Linked DNA regions of Homo sapiens: region 2 is linked to region 1. The links come from fine-mapping of genetic effects on gene expression. A gene starts in region 1. The other region holds a variant in brackets. All regions are shown on one strand. Distances are from middle to middle.

What was found.
Region 2: its variant is fine-mapped to the expression of MROH1 in esophagus mucosa (GTEx, PIP 0.95).

Annotation. Positions count from the first base shown.
Region 1 is chr8:144,144,216-144,152,531 of GRCh38, forward strand. MROH1 (maestro heat like repeat family member 1) reads left to right here and starts at 3,801. Exons shown (of 44, transcript NM_032450.3): 1 at 3,801-3,861. RefSeq lists silencers at 3,073-3,162, 3,283-3,482, 3,653-4,032.
Region 2 is chr8:144,177,718-144,186,033 of GRCh38, forward strand. MROH1 (maestro heat like repeat family member 1) reads left to right here. Exons shown (of 44, transcript NM_032450.3): 5 at 1,738-1,869; 6 at 2,461-2,623; 7 at 2,708-2,806. Among named protein-coding and RNA genes, the nearest start is that of MROH1, 34 kb to the left of the region's middle. RefSeq lists enhancers at 472-1,285, 2,825-3,542, 6,673-7,216 and silencers at 4,348-4,520, 7,562-7,611. The variant G/A (reference allele first, on the strand shown) is at 4,849.

The DNA of each region.
Region 1 (8,316 bases):
CATTTCAACTGCACCCCCTCCTTCGAGAGGATGCCATGGCCACACTCAGCTGGGCCCTAAGGTGGGCTGAGCCAGAGGAAGGCAGGCAGGAGCTCTGTCTCCCGGCCTTCTCCACTGGAGCCTGAAGCACCTCCTGCCCAGGCCAGCAAGGTGCAGGAAGCGTCCCACCTAGAGACCTCTGCAGACTTGACCACACACCCCAGGGCAAGCAAGGGCCCCACTCCTGAGCCTACCTCTGATCCTACAGTTCCAAGAGACAGAAGCCAACCTTGCCCCTCCCTTCTGGACCCCAGAGTGCCCTGTGGGCACTATTACTGCTAACGTTTGAGTGCCAGCTCTGTGCCGGGTGCCATTCTGGGCAGTCGCACCAGCTACCACTACCACCTGTAGCAGTCCTGCCCCCGTTCACAGAAGACATTCAGGAGCCCAGCCTGTGGGGGCAGTTCACATCTGGGATCTCAAGTCCTAACACAACCAAGCAATCCTCGCTTTACAGATGATGAAATTGAGCCGCCATGGTGGGGAAGCCCAACCCAAATGTGTCATCTCTGCTGTGAGCTAGACAGCACAGTGGCTGTGGGCCTGGAGGGCAGGGCTGCCTGATGGGCAGCCATCCTGGGAATGTCTGCAAGGGTCTGGTGCTTGGTACAGACCAGTGAGTCTGGGGAATTGGGGTCTCCACCAAGATCTGTGGGTGCACTTGGCATGTTTGCTGCAGAAAAGGCCCCAGAATGGGCTGGCTTGAACTGGAAAAACACACTTTCTCATCCCTTTTGGACCACGAGCTTCTTGAGAGCAAAGCATGTGTTTGATATTCCTTTGCTCACCCTCAGGCCTTGTTTGGCAAATTGCCTGGGATACAGAAAATAAGGACAAGGTCTGGGTGTAGTGGCTTATGCCTGTAATCCCAGCACTTTGGGTGACCAAGGCAGGAGGATCTCTTGAGGCCAGGAGTTGCAGACCAGCCTGGGTAACATAGTGAGACCTTGTCTCTGCAACAAAATTTAAAAATTAGCCAGACTTGGTGGTTCCCACTTGCAATCCCAGCTATTTGGGAGGCTGAGGCGAGAGGATCACTTGAGCGCAGGAATTTAAGGCTGCTGTGAGCTATGATTGTGCCACTGCACTCCAGCCTGGGTAACAGTGAGAGGCCTCATTTCAACAATAAAACCCAGCTTGGGCCGGGCGCGGTGGCTCATGCCTTTAATCCCAGCACTTTGGGAGGCCAAGACGGGCAGATCACGAGGTCAGGAGATAGAGACCATCCTGGTTAACACGGTGAAACCCTGTCTCTACAAAAAATACAAAAAAAAAAAATTAGCCGGGCATGGTGGCAGGCACCTGTAGTCCCAGCCAGTCGGGAGGCTGAGGCGGAAGAATGGCGTGAACCCGGGAGGCAGAGGTTGCAGTGAGCCGAGATCGCGCCACTGCACTCCAGCCTAGGGGACAGTTAGACCTCAGAAGAAACAAACTGGTTTGTGGTTGACCTGGGGGTTAGGTGTAGGGAAAAGAAAGACAGATCAGACTGTCCCTGTGTCTATGTAGAAAGGGAAGACATAAGAGACTCCATTTTGAAAAAGACCTGTACTTTAAACAATTGCGTTGCTGAGATGTTGTTAATTTGTAGCTTTGCCCCAGCCACTTTGATCCAACCTGGAGCTCACAAAAACGTGTGTTGTATGAAATCAAGGTTTAAGGGATCTAGGGCTGTGCAGGACGTGCTTTATTAACAAAATGTTTACAAGCAGTATACTTGGTAAAAGTCATCACCATTCTCTAGTCTCGATAAACCAGGGGCACAATGCACTGTGGAAAGCCACAGGGACCTCTGCCCTTGAAAGCAGGGTATTGTCCAAGGTTTCTCCCCATGTGATAGTCTGAAATATGGCCTCGTGGGATGAGAAAGACCTGACTGTCCCCCAAACTGACACCCGTAAAGGGTCTGTGCTGAGGTGGATTAGTAAAAGAGGAAAGCCTCTTGCAGTTGAGTTAGAGGAAGGCCACTGTCTCCTGCCTGCCCCTGGAAACTGAATGTCTTGGTATAAAACCCGATTGTACATTCAGTTCTGAGCTAGGAGAAAAACCGCCCTATGGTGGGAGGTGAGACATGTTTGCAGTAATGCTGCTTTGTTATTCTTTACTCCACTGAGATGTTTGGGTGGAGAGAAACATAAATCTGGCTTAAGTGCACGTCCAGTCATAGTACCTTCCCTTGAACTTAATTATGACATAGATGCTTTTGCTCACGTTTTTTGCTGACCTTCTCATCACCCTGCTCTCCTACAACATTCCTTTTTGCTGAAATAATGAAAATAATAATAAAAACTGAGGGAACTCAGAGGCCGGTGCTGGTGCAGGTCCTTGGTGTGCTGAGTGCTGGTCCCCTGGGCCCACTGTTGTTTCTCTATACTTTGTCTCTGTGTCTTATTTCTTTTCTCAGTCTCTCGTCCCACCCGACTAGAAATACCCACAGGTGTGGAGGGGCAGGCCACCCCTTCATTAGGAAAAAAATAGAAACTGCGCCAGGCAATTTAAGCAGGTGGGATTGGTTGCTTAAGTGTCAGAAGGGCTTGAGAGGCACGGGGGCAGGGTGGAGTTCGTCGAAGGTGGGGGCTGCAAGAAGCGGCCACTCTAGAACCGGAGCCAGGTGGTCCCGACCCAGGGTGGCTGAGCCTCTGGGCTCTGCTGCGGAGCCTGGGAGCCTGCGGCCCCTGCGGCACACCTCCGCTCCCACCAGTGGCAGGACACAGCTGGAAGCCCGCGAGTGTCAAGCCAAGTGATGACTGCAGGATCAGAACGGCCATTGGCTCTGTCCACCCTCCCTTTGCAGTCTCGATTATCCGCGTCGTTGCCTGCACCTGAGTCCATTCCCGGGGCTTCATTGGGCAGCCGTCCCGTGCGGGGCTTTGTAAGCAGCCCTCGGGAGCAAAATACAGACTCAGGCCTGCCCCTGGCGGAGGGGCTGGCGTTCGTTTGTGATCGGAGTGAAAGTGGGGCTGTGCTGCGCGCGGCAGCTGGTGTGCGTGAGGCGGGGGCGGCACCGAGACCGGGAGGGGACAAGGCCACAGGCGCGTGGGAAGCCGCCGCAGGGGCCGCGCCCGCATCCGCAAAGGGTACTGCGCTCTCCCGGGCGCCGTCCCCACAGCGGGAGCCCAGTCCCTCCGGCCAGGAGTGGACATCCTGCCCGCGCTGCTCCCGCCGCCTCCGCCTCTGCCGACGCCCAGCCTGGACGCGCGGCGGGCGCTTTCCTTCCTCACATCGCTCTTATCGCGTCCCGAGTTCCCGGGACCCCGCTGGTCGCCTCTTTCCCAACGAGCGCAGGGCCCTGCGAGTCCTGCCCCCCTCCGGGTGCCGCGGCCTCCAGCTGGCGCTTCCGGGGCAGACAGAGGGCGGGCGGGCCGCGCGAGTCCAGGGCGGGCGTGTGCTTGCGAGCGGCCGCAACGCCGCGCCGAGCCCGCGTCCCCGGCGTCTGGGAGCGGAGGTCGTCAGGGCTGTATGCGTCCGACGGGGACACGGGGACTGCAGCACCCCGGGGCTGGCGTAGCTGTCGCGAGCCTGAAGGCCGCGCCTGCGCCGTGGCGGCCGAACTGTCGCTCAACAGACGGGCGGGGCCGAGCGTGAGGCGGAGTCTGCGCACTGCTGCTTTGCAAATGAAGGTGGGCGGGGTGGAGCGAGCGTGAGAGACGTGCCCCCGACCAATAAGTGCAGAGATCGCTCGGGGGCGGGGACCTGCTGCCGCGCTCCAGGCTGCGGGTGGCCAGAAGGCAGCGGGGGCGGGCTCGGCGCGCGCGGCTCCGCCCACTCCGGGCCCCTGCTGGGCGGGAAGGCGGCGCCCCGGCCGAGGTGGCGGCGGCTCCTCAGGTAAACGGCGGGTGGGGATGAGCCTTCGGCGGCGCTGGGGAAGAGCCCCTCGGGGAAGTCTGGGCTGAAGAGCCTGGGGCGGCTCCCTTGGCGGGGCCGCGGAGGAAGCCGAGTCAGGAGGCGCCTCCCCAAGGTCACAGGGCGAACGCTGGGAGGGTCCTGGGTGTCGCGGGGACCTCGGCTCAGGTGTGCGCCGCGCCACAGCCCGGAAGAGAGGCCGGAGCTGTGCGGCTGTGCTCCTCCTCTGCGCCGCTAAGTCGTCTCGGCCGCGCGACCACCCCTCTTCGGGGAGCTTGGTGGTCCCCGGTGCCCGCCCCTCCGCGGGAGCCCGGTGGTCCCCGGTGCCCGCCCCTCCTGTGAGCCCGGTGGTCCCCAGTGCCCGGCCCTCCCCGGGAGCGCGGTGGTCCCCGGCCCTTCTCCCCCCAGGCGGGGCCACCGGGGGTCCTCTCTCCGGGAAGCCAAGCATACGCCCGGAGCCTGCAAAGCCGGCGTGCCCCGGGCCTCCGTATGCCTTCCGTATTCTCTGACGATCGCGAGCAGGAAGGTGATTTGTCCCTAGTCACGAGGATGACTGGTCATAGCGTGCCGGGCATAGCGCTGGCAGGGCCGCCGGGAGCCAGCCCTCACTCAGCCAAGGTGAGACTTAGGGGGTCGGATTTTCGGGCAGCGTCAGTGCAGCTGCAGTGTGAGGGTCAGAGGAAACCACTCTGCGGGCGCTGGTGGCTCGGTCCTACACACTCTGGGGAGGGGCTCCTTTGCCTGCTCAGTTGGGGAAGGGACAGACTCATAAACTCAAGTGCAGTGAGGTAAGCAGAAAAGGGGTACGGGGGTGTGGCCGAACTTAGGGATGTGAGCAGAGTTGGGTCGGGGACAGCCCTGTAGGCAGGGACCACTTTGGAAGGGGATGGTGGTGAACGCACACGATGCGGTAAGAGGCAGGCAGGGTAGGGCCGGTGATAAGTCAGGTGAGGGTGGTGAGTTGAGTTTAGAGCTGTTGGGTCTCAGTGCGATGACCATGGATGGAGATGTCCCGAAGACCTCGGGTCCCGGCGAGGCGAGGGCTGGAGATGCGTGTGGGAATCGTTGTTTGCGGCATGTTTCATAGGTGGTACGTGTTTGTGACGTGGCTGCATGGACAGTCTGGGCACCCTAGGGTGCTGCCGTCAGCAGGATCTTCAGTGCTCAGTCTCAGGCTCTCAGGGTCCCCGTGAACAGGTGTCTCTGGTCTCTCTTTGATGTCAGAGTGGAATGACCTGAGGCTAAGGTGTTTTTGTTAACTTGAAACTGACGTGCAGGCCGCTGTGGCTTGTGGAGACCTGCACCTCGTCATTTCCCACTGGCTGGGGTTGATTGCTGACTGCTGAGGGACACCAGGGGGTCAGAGGTGGAGGCTGTGGGGCATGTGCTTGCCTGAGTTCGTGGCTGTCTCCTGTGTCAGGAAACAGGTGCTGGTGCTTAGTTTTCTTTCCCAGGGTCCACAGAGGCCCAGGAGAGAAGCCTGGTTGCTGCCCTCTGTCTCGTAGCCCCCCTTTCACAGAGCTGGGTTATTTGGGGTAGAGATCCTCTGTCTGTGCCGGTCCACCCAGCTTGGTTTCTTTGGGGTAGGAGCACCAGGAAAGGCTCCCGTGGCTCTTGGGAGCTCCTAGCCAGTGTGCAGAGAACATGGACTGCTGCCCATCATGAGAAATGTGCTTTCTTCACTGAGCTTGAGGGGCCACCTGGTTTTGGGGGTTTGCATGAGCACCAGTGACACAGCTTGGTGTGGCCTGTATTGAGGAACCATGTTCTCGGTGGACTGTGAGCAGTGGGCTGTGGGATTGCATTTCCCAGGGTCATCAGCCTTATTGGTGACTTTGGAAGTTGATTCTGTGGCTGCTGTGCTGGGAGAGAAGGTTCCTTGGACCTGACGCGTGGGTGGGGCATTCTGTGACCTCCCAGTCTCCCTGCACACACCCAGCCCTGCAGGCTGGCTCACCACTGCTTCTGGGCTATTGATTCCTGTGGCCTGCACAGCCTCGCACACCCCCTCCTAACCCTTTTGGACCCAGTGCAGCACCTCTGTTGTGGGCACAGGTGTGGCAGCCATATACTTTTTGTGGCCGGAGGGCTTTCAAGACAGGAACTCTGGGCCTGGGATGGTGACTGGCGGGTGTTTACTAAATGTGGTTGAATTAAATGAAAAGGAAGCAGCTCTTTCATTCACACAGAAATGTGTGCTATGTAGGGAGAGAAGACCCTATCAACCCTGCCTGCCACCTTCTCCCATTCGTTTGCTTTTTGTTAATTTAACCAGAGCCCTGATTGGCATTTGTGTTTTTTTCTGACATCCCCATTATATACATGTGTGTGTACTAGTACGAGGGCATCTGTAGATAGATGTGGAAAAGTGGATGTTTAGCCACTGAGGCTTGTTGGGGCCGTTCTTCAGGTTCTGCTACTGGCACCAGCACCGAGTAGCCCCTGTCCTCAGCACGTCAGATGCTCTTGGTGTTCAACTGTGTGCTGGCCTCACTGCAAGCCTTTGACTGGTGACACTTTTTGCCATGTAGCCTACAAATAGAGGAGCTAGTCATCACTGATCGTCACCATTTGTAGGTGGTGGGACAGGGCACAGGGATTTTCCATGCCTGCTCATGGCTTACTGGCTCTGCCACTGAGCCCTTATCCAGCCACTGATGCAGGAGGGCTGGGAAGAGAAGAGTGTGGTCCCTTATGGAATAGGGGAAGGGAAGTGCTGGGTAGAGTAGAGCATGGTCCCTGGCTAGGGCTCCACCACCATGGACCTAGATGAGGACAGGCACTCCTGCCTTCCTGCCCAAATGTTACATTTCCCAAGACCACCCTGGCCTGCCATACATAGCTCCTGTGCCTATATAAACCTGAGACCCAGGCCAGGCGTGATGGCTCACGCCTGTAATCCCAGCACTTTGGGAGGCCCAGGCAGGCGGATCACTTGAGGTCAGGAGTTCGAGACCAGCCTGGCCAACATGGTGAAACCCCGTCTCCACTAAAAATACAAAAATTCGTCGAGTGTGGCGGTGGGCGCCTGTAATCCCACCTACTCAGGAGGCCAAGGCAGGAGAATCGCTTGAACCTGGGAGGCGGAGGTTACAGTGAGCCGAGATTGCGCCATTGCATTCCAGCCTGGGTGACAGAGCAATATTCTGTCTCAAAAAAAAAAAAAAAAAAAAAAAAAAACCTCCAAGATGCTAGCAAGGCAGGGACACAGGCAGCTGGACATAGAGAGGAGCAGATTGGCGGAAGAAGACACAAGCAACTGGACCTCGAGGGGAACACGCCAGTGGAAGAACACACCAACAGATGCCAGCACTCTGGCAGGCCATCGACTGGCTGGACAAGGTGGAGTTTGGCCAGGGCAGTCGGAGGAGAGCTGGGGCCACCAAGCAGCCCAACTCCAGAGGAAGACCATCTCCTTTCTGGCTCCCCCATTGGCTGAGAGCTGCTTCCACTCAATAGAACTTTACACTCATTCTCCAAGCCCAGGTGTGATCCGACTCTGCCGGTACACCAAAGGGCAAGAACCCGGGATACAAAAAGCCCTCTGTCCTTGCGACAAGTAGAGGGTCTAATTGAGCTGTTTAGCACAAGCTGCCTATAGACGGCAAACTAAAAGAGCACCCTGGAACACACGCCCACTGGGGCTTCAGGTGTAAACATTCATCCCTAGATACAGCCTCCCGTCTCTGTGCTCCCCCTAGAGGTTTGGGCAGCGGGGCACTGAAGAAGCAATTCGCACCAACGTCACACGCCCTGCGACGGGGACAAGGGGACCTTTCCGCAGCACCGTGCTGCACTGCCGTCGGCTCTGGAAGGGTGGCTGAGTGTCTCTGTTCAACCTAGGGGCAGTCAGCACAGTCCCCATATGTCTGCCGGCGATCTCTCTCTCTTCTGAGAATTCTTGCACGTCCTTTGCTCTCTTTCCTGTTTATCTCAGGGATGTGCACAAGCTCCTTTGCATACAGTAGTCCTTCCCTGTCCACAGGGATATGTCTCATACCTATATACCTATGATAAAGTTTAACTATAAATGAAGCACAATAAGAGGTTGACAGCAATGAATAATAAAATAGAACAGTTTATGACAATACTCAAGACAGCCTGCAATTTAAAACATGAGTTCATTTCTGGAATTTTTCTATTTAATATTTTTGGACTATGTTTGATTGTGGGTAACTGAAACCAAGGAAAGTAAAACAGGATAAGAGGGGACTACTATGTTAATATCAGGCAAGTCATTTTCTCATATATATTATGATTGGTTTATCATAACTGCCTTGTTTTTTTATTTAAAAAAAATTTTTTTTTTTTTTGAGACGGAGTCTTGCTCTGTCGCCAGGCTGGAGTGCAGTGGCACGATTTTGGCTCATTGCAACCTCTGCCTACTGGGTTCAAGCCATTCTCCTGCCTCAGCCTCCTGAGTAGCTGGGACTACAG
Region 2 (8,316 bases), 34 kb after region 1:
CTTTGATGCTGTTCTCATGATAGAGTTCTCAGGAGATCTGGTTGTTTGAAAGCATGTGGCTTCTTCTCTTCCTCCTCCTCTGTCTTCCTCCTGCTCAGGCTATGTGAGATGTGCCTGCTTCTGCTTCATTTTCCACCACGATTGTGTTTTCCTGAGGCCTCCCCAGCCATGCTTCCTGTACAGCCTGCAACTTTGAGCTAATTAGACCTTTTTTCTTTGTAAGTTACCCAGTCTCCGGTATTTCTTCTTCTTTTTTTTTTTTTCTTTGAGACAGTCTTGCTCTGTCGCCCAGGCTGGAGTGGTGTGATCTCGGCTCACTGCAACCTCCACCTCCCGGGTTCAAGCTTTTCTCCTGCCTCAGCCTCCCAAGTAGCTGGGATTACAGGTGCCGGCCACTGTGACTGGGTAATTTTTGTTTTTTGTGTTTTTTTTTTGAGACAGAGTCTTGCTCCGTGGCCCAGGCTGGAGTGCAGTGGCGCGATCTCGGCTCTGCAACCTCTGCCTCCCGGGTTCAAGCGATTCTTCTGCCTCAGCCTCCCGAGTAGCTGGGACTACAGGTGTGCGCCACCACACACGGCTAATTTTTGTATTTTTAGTAGAGACGGGGTTTCACCATATTGGCCAGGCTGGTCTCGAACCCCTGACATCAGGTGATCCGCCCGCCTCAGCCTCCCTAAGTGTTGAGATTACAGGCGTGAGCCACCACGCACGGCCTGTACTTTTTTTTTTTTAGTAGAGACAGGGTTTCACCATGTTGGCCAGGCTGGTCTTGAACCCCTGACATCAGGTGATCCGCCCGCCTCGGCCTCCCTAAGTGTTGAGATTACAGGCGTGAGCCACCGCGCCTGTTCGGGTTTTTGCAGGTCACCTCTTTATAGCCATGTGAGAATGGACGACAGAGCCTGTGGGCCTCTGGGCCGCCCTGTGCCGGCCATGTTGCCTGGTGCAGGCTGCTCTCAGGGTGGTGGAGGGAGGGGCCATGGTGGGTGCATCATTGGGGAGGGGCTGTCAACACAGGGTGGCTGGGTGCCCCAGGTTCCTTTCCTGGGTTGGGCAGTAGCCTACTCTGCTGTGTGCCCCCGCGGGTCCCAGCTTTCAGTCCCAGTCCTTGGTGTGTCCCCAGTTGAGGCAAGGACAGTGTGTGCTCTTTGGATTTACAGTGGAGGTGGTGGTCGACAGGAGAGCTGCTTAGGGGGAGGATGAAGGCAGGTGGTTGGACTCTGCGGAGGGTTAACCTGGGAGGTGGAGGTGGCTTGGGGGCGTGGCAGAAGGTGGTGTGGTGGGTGGCGTTTTTCCTTAGCAGCCTTGGGGAGGGGCCGTTGGATACAAGCACTAGCCTAGCGGCAGAGACTGAGGCCATGACCACTGAGCTGGGGACAGGAGTGTGCTCCTCCTCTGACAGGGGAGGGCAGGGCAAGGAGGTGGAAGGGTCCTGGGAGTGTCATGTGACTGGGAGACCCTACTGACTACCCCTGGAGGAGAGAAGCCCCCCGCCTCGCCCTCTGCATGTTGGTTGTCTGGCGCAGGATAACGCTCCACCCTTCTGGAGATGGGCCGTGAGTGTGAGGCTTGCAGGCCGGCTTTTAGGGCGTGAGGAGTGATCAGGTGTACCCCTCCCCTCCTGCACTTGAGGCAGAGAGATTTGTGCGGTTTCATCTTGTAGAGACAGTGACAGGCACTCAGAGTGTCTGGGTGTGGGGCTCACCTGGGACCGACCTGGACGGTGTCTCTCCGCAGCTGGCACACCCATACCGAGCAGCGGTCCTGAGGGCCATGGAGAGGGTCCTGAGCAGTCGCGCCAGTGAGCTGGACAAGGACACAGCCAGCACCATCATCCTCCTGGCCTCCAGCGAGATGACCAAGACGAAGGTATTCAGCAGGCCCTCTGGCCTCGCAGACTCAGGCCTAGCTTGGGAAGGGAAGCTGCTTCTTGGCCTTTCTACCCAGCAGCCTTGAGAGTATAGGGTGGTGTTTGGCTGCCTTGGGCTGGCAGATGCCCTTCGGTCTCATGCATCACCCTGCAGGGGTGGGGGGTGGTCCCCTGTGATTTTCAGAGGCAGCAACTGAAGCAGAGAGCAAGTTGCCAGAACTCAGCACACGCAGGACCGTGGTGTGCGTGCAGCTGGGGCCAAAGGCTGTGCCCGGCATTGGGGTTGGTGCAGGGCTCTGGTGGGCCTAACTCTCAGGGCACTGAGTGCAGCCCCCTCTCACCAGGGCTCTGCTGCTCCTGCGTGTGGGGTCTCCTCAGCAGCCCCTCACCTCTCACCAGGGCTCTGCTGCTCCTGCGTGTGGGGTCTCCTCAGCAGCCCCTCAGCAGAGGAGGCTGTGCCCGCCACCTTCCCTGACCTGCACTTTCTGGGGACGCTGAAAACAGCGTGCGCTTGTCCAAGGCTGGCAGCGACTGAGGGCAGAATGTCTTGGTCTTGCCTTTTGGTCTACCTGCCGGTGTTTTGGGTTCAGGACCTGGTCTGGGACTGGCAGCAGGCGGCGAGTGGCGTCCTGGTGGCCGTGGGAAGACAGTTCATCAGCAAGGTGATGGAGGAGCTGCTGCGCAGGCTGCACCCTGGGACCCTGCCACACTGCGCCGTGCTGCACACCCTCGCCAGCCTCTCGGTGGCCAACGGTAGGTGACGCGCGGCCTGCCCCAGGAGGAGCACGGGGCGCTGGAAGCCTTGGCGGAGGCCTTTGACGGTGTCCTCTCTCACAGCGTTCGGCGTAGTCCCCTTCCTGCCATCCGTCCTGAGCTCCCTGCTGCCCGTGCTGGGCGTGGCCAAGCAGGACACGGTGCGCGTGGCCTTCTGCTCCGGTAAGAGGCGGCCTCGTCACCTTCTGTCTCAAGTGCCCCTTTGTGGGGGGCTGTTCCCGGGCATGCCTGTTTTAGGGGGGACAGGTGGGCACTTTAGGCTGCAGGAAGGGGGGCTGTTGGAGGGAGGGGCCCCCTGGCTGAGGCTGCTGGCTGGTTGGGGGGCCCATGTGGGGCTGACACAGCCTCTGTCTCTTGTTTCTCTCTACTCCTGGAGAGCCCCCCACCTTACATTGTGGGTCCACTGAGGGCTGGACGTGCCTGGGGGGTAGGAAGAGACTTCCTCGAAGCCATGACTTTTTGTTTTCCTCCCCACTCCAGGCTAGAAAAGTGTCCGCTCTCTGGGCATCCCAGGACCCAGGGGATGGGGGCACATTCATTCACCCCCACCCTCTGCCAGGAGCCCCATTCCTGGCAGCACTGCCCACAGCCCTCTGTGTGCCTGGCAGGGGACTGCGGGCATGTCATGGGCCTGGACCTTGGTTTCCCCTGCCACTGACAGTGGGGGAGTGGTTGGTGGGATTGGAGGGCATTTCTGTTAGAAGGGGGTGTGGAGATTAGAGATCCTGAGCTACCCTTAGTGCCCTCACAGCCCACGGCCTCGTGCTCCCGGTGTCCCATGTCAGGAAGACGGCCAGCCCTGGTAGCTGGCCGGGAGGAGAACAGGACCCTCGTGCCCAGGGGACCAGCCCTCGTAAAGAGCCAGCCCTCTGGGGCCGGGGGCCGTTAGTTCCAGGCAGCAGGTGTGGGAGGACCCAGTGATGGGGGAGGGGCCCGGTGATGGGGGAGGGGCCGGTGATGGGGGAGGGGCCTGGTGGGGCCCGGGCAGGGCATGTTTTCGAAGCATGGAGGGAGTGGTTACAGGGCTGGGCTGGGCTCTGTAGACTGCAGGGTTGGTTTGGAGCATTTGGACCCACCTGCTCTGCTCCTGGTGACTTTGGGTTCAGATCACAGGGCTCCTGCCACCCTCTCCTCAGCCCTTGCGCTCCGTCTCTCCTGGCCCTGCTCTTTGATAAATGCCTTCATCTTTGGGGCACTCCTTCACAGGCTCTTTCTCACCTGTGGATGAGGGCAGGGCCCCTTGGGTAGAAGGGATAGTAACTCCATGTGACCCAGTTTTGGCTAAAAATGGGATTGGTGACAGGATGGGGGCAGCTGCATACTGAGCCAGGTGTGAAGGAGCAGAGAGTGGAAGTGGGTGTGGGTGTGGACTCAGCTAAGGTGCCTGGGGCGCAGGACGTGCCATCCAGGCTGCAGGGCGGAGACAGAACGGGGCCGCTGGGGCGCCTGTCTCTGTGCTGCACGCACATCGCCCCTTCCCGCCACTCCTCTGGGAAGTGGCCTGATCCCTGCAGCTGCTGAGGCTCTAAGCAGAAACGGACTTGCAGTTCTGACACCTCTTGCTTACCTTCCCCTTCATAGGGGACCTGCGGCTCCTCTGGGCCCTACCATGCTGGCATTTTCCTCCATGTGTCAAACACATGGGTTCAGCCAGCGAAGATTCCATGGGACCTCCTCGTGTGGGACGTGTGCTCCCCACCACAAATGGAACGTTCCCTGTTTGCATCTGGAGGGGTTGGTGGTCCTGCTGGCTGGAGCAGCCTGGGGCCAGAGGAAGCCGTATCAACCGGGTGAGGCCTAGTGGTGGGGGCGGTGGCAGGCCTGCGTCCACTGCGGGAGGGTGCAGGTCCAGCCAGGACAGGCAGTGTGCCAAGGACAGGAGTGCCCTCAGGGCACTGCAGCCAGGAGGCGAGGAGCCTCAGGGAAGACTCCCAGTGGTGGAGGCACGGCTGGCCTGGCCACGCCGTCCAGCAGGGCAGGCATCCAGTAATTCCTCCCGGCCAAGGAACCCCTCCAGTAGGAAAGGTGGCAACAAAAGAAACAGACACTAATTGGAGATGTAGATGGTTCAGGGAGAAGAAAATAACAGAGAAAGAAAATCTCTGATTAATATCCTCAGGAAAATAAGTGGGCATCATGCATTCACGGGACAAGAGGTGTCACCATGGAGAAGCCACATTGAGAGAATAAAACTGACCTTCTGT[G/A]AATTAAAGATGCCATAATAGAAATGGGAAAAATAATAGAAGAATTGGAAGAGAAAGTTGTGGAAATTTCCAGAAAATAGAGGAAAAAGGCAAAAATATGGAAAGTAGGAGAGAAAGAGAAGAATGAACTAGCAGGCTGAACCCTGAAGCCAGCATTCCAATCAGAGGCACCCTAGAAAGAATGGACAGAGATGGGAGGTCAAGAGATGACGCAAAGGCATGCCCTAGTGGCCGGGTGCGGTGGCTCATGCCTGTAATCCCAGCACTTTGGAAAGCCGAAGCGGGCTGATCACTTGAGGTCAGGAGTTCAAGACCAGTCTGGCCAACATGGCAAAACCCCGTCTCTACTAAAAATACAAAAAAATTAGCCGGGTGTGGTGGCGCATGTCTGTAATCCCTGATACTGTGGATGAGACAGGAGGATTGCTTGAACCTCGGAGGCGGAGGCTGCAGTGAGCCAAGATTGCACCACTGTACTCCAGCCCGGGTGACAGAGTGAGACTCTGTCTCAAAACAAACAAATCAAAACTAGCTGGGCATGGTAGCTTACGCCTGTAATCCCAGTACTTTGGGAGGCCAAAATGGGAGGATCACTTGAGCCCAGGAATTCGAAACCAGGCTGGGCAGCATGGTGAGACCCCATCGTTAGAAAAAATATTTTTAAAAATTTGCCAGGTATGGTAGCACATGCCTGTATTCCAGCTCCTTGGAAGGCTGAGGCAGGAGGATTGCTTGACCCTGGGAAGTCGAGGCTGCAGTGAACCAAGATCAAGCTACTGAACTCCAGCCTGGGTGACAGAGCAAGACTCTGTCTCAAAAAAAAAAAAAAAAATCCTAATAACACAACAGGGGTGGGCTTCTGCTTGTGGCATTATGGTGGTCTGTTATTCTGAAAAAACTTCCCACTGCCGAATACCTGGAATGCTGATGAGTTGACCAGCATCCTTCTGATCAATCAGAAGGAGAAACCTAGGCCCACGGAGGTCAAGAGGGGAGGTGAGAGGTTAGAGCTCTCCAGTGGCCCCTGGGCACCTGCCTGCCTTGATTTCACATGGGAGACAAGGCCTTTCTTCTTCTTTTTTCTTTTTTCTTTTTTTTTGAGATGGAGTCTCGCTCTGTTGCCCAGGCTGGAGTGCAGTGGCGCGATCTCGGCTCACTGCAAGCTCTGCCTCCCAGGTTCACGCCATTCGCCTGCCTCAGCCTCTCCGAGTAGCTGGGACTACAGGCGCCCACCACCACGCCTGGCTAATTTTTTGTATTTTTAGTGGAGACGGGGTTTCACCATGTTAGCCAGGATGGTCTGGATCTCCTGACCTCGTGATCCGCCCGCCTCGGCCTCCCAAAGTGCTGGGATTACAGGCATGGACCACCGCGCCTGGCCAGACAAGGCCTTTCTTTGCACTGGGTCAGAGCCCACCTGTACCAGACCCTTCAAGGCCCCTCCTCAGCAAAAAGTGACTGATGAGGAACCTTCCACTGTGCACCCTGGGAGGTAGTCTGTTTTCTTTTAGAATTTCTTTTAAATCCTCTCTCCTGAGAATTTGTAACCATGGTCTGTCCTGATGTAGTTGTAGGGTTCAAAGTTGTTCTTTGTGTTGGACTGGGAAGCCCTTAAGCTGAGACGTTAGCCGTGTAAATGGGCCGGGCTGAAGTGTCCTGGGTGGGGTGACCAGTGTCCTACTGAATGTTTGCGTCCCAGTCAGGCTGCATGGCAGTGGCTCTGGCCGGGGGGTGTGGCCGTGGGAAGCAGCGCTTCCCTGGAGCGCAGGGTCTCGGCTCTGGTGTGGGGCCAGCAGCTCTCCACGGACCCAGGACCAGCAATATCAGTTACAGTCACAAAGCACACACGTCAGCACACAAAAAAAGGAGCATTAGAGCAGAAAGTCACATAATTTGGATTGATGAGATACAGGATAAAAATAGCAAGGTAAAGAGGCGAAAGGGAGAAAGGACAGGGTCCTACAAGGACAGAGCCAGTGTGAAAAGAGAACCAAATACAGTCTAGAAACAAAACTGTAACCATTTCCATTAAAGAGTAAGGAGGTGGGTGTGGCAGCCGGTTGCAGACACTGAAGAGAGTGCACCAGCTGGACAGGGGTCTGGGGACAACCCGGAGGGCAGCCCTGAGCTGGCAGAGAGAAGGGGGTGCGGGGCAGGCGTCAGGTGAGCTGGCCGAGCACCCCCAGCTACAGAGCACGAGTCCAGAAGAGGTGAGAAGAGGCCCAGGCTCACCGGCATCATCAAAGGGAGATGCTGTGGAGGGGCCGCCAGGAGCTGCTGACTTTCACAGCCAGTGCCAGACCTGTTCCCTGGAGCCCTGTCACCTCCACCCAGGGCAGAAGGACGCTATGGGGCTGGGGCAGAGCAGGAGTCCCCACCCCCTGCACTGGAGAGGGTGTGGAGGCCCTGGGTGCTGCTGGTGAGTGACAGGTGTGCAGGGGATCCCCGCGCCAGCAAGAAAGGAGCTGAGGAGGAGGGGGAGGCAGGCAGCCTCTTGCCCTTTTCTCTGTCGGGGAGGGAAGTGTCTTGTAGCTTTAGGGAAACCACTGCAGTGTTGCAGTCCCAGGATTTCTGTGCAGTGTGTCGCTCCTGCAGGCAGCCTGCCGGTTCCACTGGAATCCTCGTGCTGTGCCGCCTGACCCTCCCTGGCCTCTGTGGTTTCTGCAGGGTGGGAAGTGGGAGCTGAGCCCTCCCATCTCACTGTATGTGTCAGGCCGTTGCAAGTTTTGTCGTTACTGTGGTCTCACCTACCCAGACCTGAGCAAGGCAGAAAACACAGAAACTAATGCTTTAGAAAATAAGCAGTTGGCAAAACGTTATGTTTTATACCTAGTTCTTTGAAATAAGTGAATTAAATACTTAAGCTGCTGCCTCATCAAGAGAAAAGAGAGAAACAAGCCAAGTGGTAAACAGGAGGTGAATAGATGTGAGGACAGCGAGGGGTGGCGCGGGGACCGCGGGGAGATGTGAGGGGTGGCATGGGGACCGTGAGAGGGGCGGTGAGGGGCGGCGCAGGGGCCTTGAGGGGATGTGAGAGGCAGTGCGGGGACCGCGGGGGGCGGTGAGGGCCGGGGGGGGGGACGGTGAGGGGCGGCGCAGGGACCTCGAGGGGACGTGAGGGGCAGTGCGGGGACCGTGGGGGGAGGGGGAGGGGCGGCGGGGGGACGGTGAGGGGCGGCGCGGGGACCTCGAGGGGACGTGAGGGGCAGTGCGGGGACCGTGGGGGGAGGGGGAGGGGCGGCGCAGGGACCTCGAGGGGACGTGAGGGGCAGTGTGGGAACCACGGGGGGGCGGTGAGGGGCAGTGCAGGGACCGTGGGGGGATGGTGAGGGGTGGCGGGGGGGCGGCGAGGGGCGACGTGGGGACCACAAGGGACCAGCAAGGGCCGCCGAGGGGACCGCGTGCCCAGTGCAGCCACCTCTGAAAGCCCAGCAGCGAGTGCTCCAGGAGAGTGCCACTTCCCAGGCA